Homo sapiens: one gene and its partner. The protein of the gene in region 2 purifies or fractionates together with the protein of the main gene of each other region. This does not show direct contact. Each region holds a gene or a part of one and is shown on either strand. Other genes may lie near its edges.

The links.
Region 1: the proteins of MIER2 (region 2) and MGA purify together in Homo sapiens (affinity purification with mass spectrometry; 3 studies listed by BioGRID and IntAct, with this or other methods). This does not show direct contact.

What each region holds. Positions count from the first base shown.
Region 1 is NC_000015.10:41,694,627-41,698,440, reverse strand, and holds part of MGA (MAX gene-associated protein), read right to left. Parts: intron 2,367-3,814; coding exon 1,418-2,366; intron 1-1,417. UniProt on the Homo sapiens protein: Functions as a dual-specificity transcription factor, regulating the expression of both MAX-network and T-box family target genes. Functions as a repressor or an activator.
Region 2 is NC_000019.10:331,053-334,866, forward strand, and holds part of MIER2 (mesoderm induction early response protein 2), read right to left. Parts: intron 3,491-3,814; coding exon 3,348-3,490; intron 1-3,347. UniProt on the Homo sapiens protein: Transcriptional repressor.

The sequences.
Region 1 (3,814 bases), on a different chromosome or scaffold from region 2:
ATAATCCCAGCACTTTGGGAGGCCGAGGCAGGTGGATCACAAGGTCAGGAGATTGAGACCATCCTGGCCACATGGTGAAACCCTGTCTCTACTAAAATAAAAAAAATAGCTGGGCATGGTGATGCACACCTGTAGTCCCAGCTACTCGGGAGGCTGAGGCAGGGGAACTGCTTGAACCCGGGAAACAGAGGTTGCAGTGAGCCAAGATTGTGCCACTGCACTCCAGCTGGTGACAGAGCAAGATTCCGTCTCAAAAAAAAAAAAAAAAAGAGGCCAGGGGCAGTGGCTCACGCTTGTAATTCCAGCACTTTGGGAGGCTGAGGCAGGAGGATCACGAGGCCAGGAGATCGAGACCATCCTGGCTAATATGGTGAAACCCCGTCTCTACTAAAAATACAAAAAAAATTAGCCGGGCATGGTGGCGAGCACCTGTAGTCCCAGCTACTCGGGAGTCTGAGGCAGGGGAATGGCAAGAACACAGGAGGCGGAGTTTGCAGTGAGCCAAGATTGCGCTACTGCACTCCAGCATGAGCCACAGACCGAGACTCCATCTCAAAAAATAAATAAAAAAAGACTGGGCTTCTATAAAAATTTCCAAGAAAAATAATCTGGTTGAAGAGTCAGAGTGGAATAAACAGAGACTTCAATGTGTAAGACAGGAGAGTTAAGATGACTGTTAATATTTGGTTCTCCAATGGTACTCTACTACTACTACTGAAAACCAGGGCCAGGAGCGGTGGCTCATGCATGTAATCCCAGCACTTTGGGAGGCTGAAGCAGGCAGACTGCTGGAGGCCAGAAGTTAGAAATTAGCTGGCCAACATTGCAAAACCCCGTCTCTACCAAAATTACAAAAATTAGCTGGGTGTGGTGGCACACGCCTGTAATCCCAGCTACTCGTGAGGCTGGGGCACGAGAATGGCTTGAACTCGGGAGACGGAGATTGCAGTGAGCTGAGATCGTGCCACTGAACTCCAGCCTGGGCAACAGAGCAAGACTCTGTCTCAAAAAAAAAAAAAAAAGAAAAGAAAAATAAAAGAAAACCAGGAGGTAAAAGAAATGGAGCGTCACCAAAGAGTTAGTAAATATTTCATGTATTTTTAGTCCTTTCCAAAATCCATAATGATGAAAATTCCAGTAAGACCCGAAGACTTTTTTTAAACACAGCTATGCAAAAATCGTAAACTGAAATCTAAGCAAGACATACTTTTTTAAGTCTATTCAAATGAAGTATCTTAAGTTATTCCTATTAACTAAACCAAACATTTTGGAGACACTTCCCTCCCAACTCCACCCCCCATACACCCTCACAAATAGATATCACAAAACTAGATTGTAAATCGAGTTACTTACAAGCCAGTATACAATTCAAGTATGACTAATTAGCCTTAAAGAATCCTGAAAATTACAATCTTACCTTTGATTCAAAGGAAACAAAGAGAACACCATCCACATCTTCCAGATCAGGCTTCACATCTGGAAAGGTACTCCCAGGGCTTACAGGTGTATTCTTTGTAGAAATTAAAGACTTTCCTGTGTTCTTAGGTGGTCGTCCTGCCTTACAGAGTTTCAATTTTCGTGGCCTTCCTCTTTTTCCAGGGACATTTGGAGAGGCATTCTGATTAGCATTCACTACCTTTGCGGCTGTTGCAATCTTAAGCATAGTTGTTCTCTTTCTGCCCAAGTCCTCTTTTCCTGAAAGTGAGTCTCCAACTGAATCCTTTGAATCGTCGAGTATTCTTTCTGTGCTAATGCTGTCAGATATATCAGGATATTTCCACTGAGGCTCTTTCAGTAAGGGATATTTTTGTACCACTCTGAGATCTGGTGAATGTTTTCTAAGACCATTTTCTGATTCCTTGCCTAAGCAGAAGGCAGTCTCATTGGAATTTTCAATGTATGTAGGCAAATATTCCAATTCTGCCAACATAGAAGATTTATCCTTTCGAGATGTGGAAAGCATGTTATCGGGGAGTTCAGAAATCTTAACTGTGCTTCTGGTGACAGCACAGGGCTCCAGATAGACTACTGGCATCTTTCCAGTGTCTAATTTGAACATTTTAGCTTTAGCAACACCTGATGGGCTGCTTGGAAGCCATTTAGAAGATAGATGGTCAGCTTCTGGGTTGTCAACTTTATTGTGCCTCTTTAGCTGTTTCTCTAGTATAGGATCATCATCACTGTTTGAGTATACATCCGTCTCTTCATCTGTCTCTTCCTGTTTCACAGTGACCCCTTCTGGGCACTCACCAAGTTCGTAGTCATAATCATCTAGAGGTTCCTCTTTAATAACAACATTGAAGCTTCCGTTCTGGTCTAACGGTGAGGCTACACGGGAGTCATCTTCAAAACTGCTGGCAATAAGACTGGAGAGAGAGAGGAGAAAGGGATTTTAAAAGTACAAAATGATCCATTAACAAGACTTGAAGAGAAAAAAAAAAAAAGATGTTAGGAATCCAAGTAACACATCAGATTTCCTGAGCCATTCCTCAAAAACACTCAAAAACTCTAAAAATCCACACGGTGATTAACAACCCTGTAAAGCGAACACACATCCATCACAACTAAGAATTGCAACACAAACCGGAAAGGGCCATTAAACTGCCAGCTGATATTTTCCTGTATGTTTTGAGATTAAATTCACATAACATAAAACATAATATTGCAGCAATTTTAGAGTATACAATTCATTGGTTTTTAGTATAGTCATGATGTTGCCAGATGATTTTCCAACTTTAAAATTGAAAAACTCACTTTCAATATAAAGAATTCACCACTAATTCTTCCAAAATAAAAGATAGGGAGTTAAAGGCAAATACGTATGACCCAGATATATTGTGTATAATTCATCCAAAAACAACATAAACATCTAGTTTCCCCCTCCTCCCAATCATCCATTGAAAGCCTAAGAACTGTACCAATGTATCTTGAGAATATGGTAGAAATAAAAAATTGGGCAGGAGCGATGGCTCACGCCTGTAATCCCACTACTTTGGGAGGCTGAGGCAGGCGGATCACAAGGTCAAGAGATTGAGACCATTCTGGCCAACATGGTGAAACCCCATCTCTACTAAAAATACAAAAATTAGCTCAGCGTGGTAGCACATGCCAGTAGTCCCAGCTACTCAAGAGGCTGAGGCAGAATAATCGCTTGAACCCGGGAGGCGGAGGTTGCAGAGAGCCGAGATTGTGCCACTGCCTCCAGCCTGGCGACAGAGCAAGACCCTGTGTCAAAAAAGAAAAAAAAAAAAAAGATTCCACATAAAGTAATGACGAATTAAAATTCTCAGACTCAGAAATTCTAAAACTGCACCTCTCATTTCCCCCCACCTCAAAATATCCATACAAGTCAACACGTTAGCAGCACAGGAAAGCAGGATGAAAACTGCTTTGAGAAAAACTATACACACCACTATATATATTCACTAACAAATAACATGTAACAAAGGATTGTGGGCATTTTTTTTTAAATAGTTCAAAGCCTATGACTGAAAACAGCATTTATAGCCAGGCATGGTGGCACACGCCTGTAGTACCAGCTATTCAGAAGACTGAGGTGCCAGGACTGCTTGTGCCCAGGAGTTCGAGGCTGCAGTGAGCTACAATTGCACCACTGAATTAAACCCTGGAGCCGGGCGCAGTGGCTCACGCCTGTAATCCCAGTGCTTTGGGAGGCCGAGGCAGGTGGATCACGAGGTCAGGAGATCAAGACCATCCTGGCTAACACGGTGCTAAAAATACAAAAAATCAGCTGGGCGTGGTGGCGGGCGCCTGTAGTCCCAGCTACTCGGGAGGCTGAGGCAGGAGAATGGTG
Region 2 (3,814 bases):
CAATGTCTCCCTTAAAAGACAGAAACTGACCAGGCGTGGCTCATGCCTGTAATCCAAGCATTTTGGGAGGCTGAGATGGCAGGATCAACTTGAGGTCAGGAGTTCGAGACCAGCCTGGCCAACATGGTAAAACCTCGTCTCTACTAAAAATACAAGTTAGCCAGGCATGGTGGTGGGCACCTGTAGTCCCAGCTACTCAGGAGGCTAAGGCACGAGAATCACTTGAACCCAAGAGGTAGAGGTTCCAGTGAGCCCAGATTGCACCACTGAACTCCAGTCTGGGCAACAGAGTGAGACTCTGTCCCCAGAAAAAAAAAAAAAAGACAGAAACTGGGTCAGGTACAGTGGCTCACACCTATACTCCCAACACTTTGGGAGACCTAGGTAGAAAAATTGCTTGAGGCCAACAGTTTGAGACCAACCCTAGCAACATAGCAAGAACTCCACAAAGAAATAAAATAAAAACGTTGGTGAGGTGTGGTGGCGTGCGACTATAGTCCCAGTTATTCAGGAGGCTGAGGCAGGAGCATCCCTTGAGCCCAGGAGTTCGAGGCTGCAGTAAACTATGATTGCACCACTGCACTCCAGCCTAGGCAAAAGTGAGATCCAGTCTCAAAAAAATAAATAAATGTTTTAAAGACAGAAGCTTGGCCAGGCGTGGTGGCTCATGCCTGTAATCCAGCACTTTGGGAGGCCGAGGTGGGCAGATCACAAGGTCAAGAGTTTGAGACCAGCCTGTCCAACATGATGAAACCCCGTCTCTGCTAAAAATACAAAAATTTGCCGGGCGTGGTGGCATGCACCTGTGGTCCCAGCTACTCGGGAGGCTGAGGTAGGAGAATCACTTGAGCCCAGGAGGCGGAGGATGCAGTGAGCCAAGATCACACCACTGCACTCCAGCCTGGGAAACAGAGCAAGACTCCATCTCAAAAAAATAAAAAGACAGAAGCTGGATTTTCATATTTGCTTCTACATTCAAAGAGATATGGAAAACTAAAAATTCAGTCTTCTAATTTTTTTTCTTTTGGGACAGTTCTTTTTATTTTCATAAAAATATTTATATTAACATGTCACTGATTTATTCAGCCTCCTGAGTAGCTAGGACTACAGACGTGCACCACCACGCCTGGCAATTTTCGTATTCTTTTTTTTTCTTGAGATGGAGTTTCACTGTGTCACTCAGGCTGGACTGCAGTGGCACATCTCAGCTCATTTTAAAATGAGTTAGCGAATAAGTATTTTTACATGTCAATTTTTTTTGTTTTTTTGAGACACAGTCTTGCTCTGTCCCCCAGGCTAGAGTGCAATGGCCTGATCTCGGCTCACTGCAACCTCCGCCTCCTGGGTTCAAGCGATTCTCCTGCCTCAGCCCTTTGAGTGCTGGGATTACAGGCGCCTGCTACCACGCCCGGCTAATTTTTGTATTTTTAGTAGAGACGGGGTTTCACCATGTTGGCCAGCCTGATCTAGAACTCCTGACCTCAGGTGATCCACCTGCCTCAGCCTCCCAAAGTGCTGGGATTACAAGCATGAGCCACCGCGCCCAACAATTTTTGTATTTTTAGTACAGACAGGGTTTCACTACGTTGGCCAGGCTAGGCTCAAACTCCTGACCTCATGATCCGCCTACCTCGGCCTCCCAAAGTGCTGGGATTACAGGCATGAGCCACTGCATCCGGCCAATTTACATGTCAGTTTTAACTTTTCATGTAATAAAAAAGCAATAGATAAAGCACATTAACAAAGCTCCTTGAAACTCTAATTTTTTTTAATTTTTTTTTTTGAGACAGGGTCTCACTCTGTCGCCCAGGCTGGAGTGCAATGGCGTGATCTCGGCTCACCGCAACCTCCGCCTCCCAGGTTCAAGGGATTCTCCTGCCTCAGCCTCCCGAGTAGCTGGGACTATAGACGTGCACCACCACGCCTGGCTAATTTTGTATTCTTTTTTTTCTTTTTTGGAGACGGAGTCTCGCTGTGTCACCCAGGCTGGAGTGCAGTGGCACGATCTCAGCTCACTGCAAGCTCCGTCTCCCGGGTTCACGTCATTCTCCCGCCTCAGCCTCCCGAGTAGCTGGGACTACAGTCACCCGCCACTATGCCCGGCTAATTTTGTTTTTGTATTTTTAGTAGAGACGGGGTTTCACCATGTTGGCCAGCCTGATCTAGAACTCCTGACCTCAGGTGATCCACCTGCCTCAGCCTCCCAAAGTGCTGGGATTACAAGCATGAGCCACCGCGCCCAACAATTTTTGTATTTTTAGTACAGACAGGGTTTCACTACGTTGGCCAGGCTAGGCTCAAACTCCTGACCTCATGATCCGCCTACCTCGGCCTCCCAAAGTGCTGGGATTACAGGCATGAGCCACTGCATCCGGCCAATTTACATGTCAGTTTTAACTTTTCATGTAATAAAAAAGCAATAGATAAAGCACATTAACAAAGCTCCTTGAAACTCTAATTTTTTTTAATTTTTTTTTTTGAGACAGGGTCTCACTCTGTCGCCCAGGCTGGAGTGCAATGGCGTGATCTCGGCTCACCGCAACCTCCGCCTCCCAGGTTCAAGGGATTCTCCTGCCTCAGCCTCCCGAGTAGCTGGGACTATAGACGTGCACCACCACGCCTGGCTAATTTTGTATTCTTTTTTTTCTTTTTTGGAGACGGAGTCTCGCTGTGTCACCCAGGCTGGAGTGCAGTGGCACGATCTCAGCTCACTGCAAGCTCCGTCTCCCGGGTTCACGTCATTCTCCCGCCTCAGCCTCCCGAGTAGCTGGGACTACAGTCACCCGCCACTATGCCCGGCTAATTTTGTTTTTGTATTTTTAGTAGAGACAGGGTTTCACCGTGTTAGCCAGGACGGTCTCGATCTCCTGACCTTGTGATCCGCGCACCTCGGCCTCCCAAAGTGCTGGGATTACAGGTGTGAGCCACCGCGCCCGACAATTTTGTATTCTTAGTAGAGATGGGGTTTCACCATGTTGGCCAAGCTGGTCTCGAACTCCTGATCTCAAGTGATCCACCCGCCTCAGCCTCCCAAAGTGCTGGGATTACAAGCGTGAGCCACTGCACCCAGCCTGAAACTCTCAATAATTTTTAAGAGTACAAAGCAGGTTCTGAGACCAGAAGATTTGAGAGCAGCTGGCTTAATCCTTGACCACCGTGCTGCTCAGAGAGCCCCATGAAAGACCTGGTCTCCACTGAATTTCAGCTACTAGGACAGCATCTGGCACTTTGCAAAAAGATGTACAATTTAGCACTTACCAATGTGGAATCTGAGCTGCACAAAACTCATGAGGCTTACCCCGGAGGGCTCCACCCAACACAGGGGCAGGATCACCTTGGCCAAGTACCTGGGAGATGAAGTCCTTCTCCAGCTCCTCCTTGGGCTTGTCTGGGCACCTCGAGGCCTCCTCGCACTCCCCCCTAACACTGTAGTTCTGTGACAGGATCTCTGCGAGGTTGAACTGATGGTCTCCAGAGCCCATGGACACCACTGGGGAGAAGAGAGCAGCCCAGGTGAGCACCGTGCCTCGCCTGTCCCAACCATCCTGCCGAGACTACTGACGCCTGGTGAAGCCCTAAGGATGAGGCCCTCTGCATGCTGCCAGGATCAGCCTCATGAGGGAACCCAACAGGACACCCCACGACTAATGCACACAGGAGCACGGCTGGTGAGCTGCACATACAAATTCCAAGGATTTTTTTGGGGGGTGGGTGTGTCTCTTTCTGAGAGACTGCTTGTCTTCCTGAACACAGAGAAGCCTGCGAGGATTTGGGGAGCAAGTGGACTAGAAAGAGACCAACACCCATCTCGTTA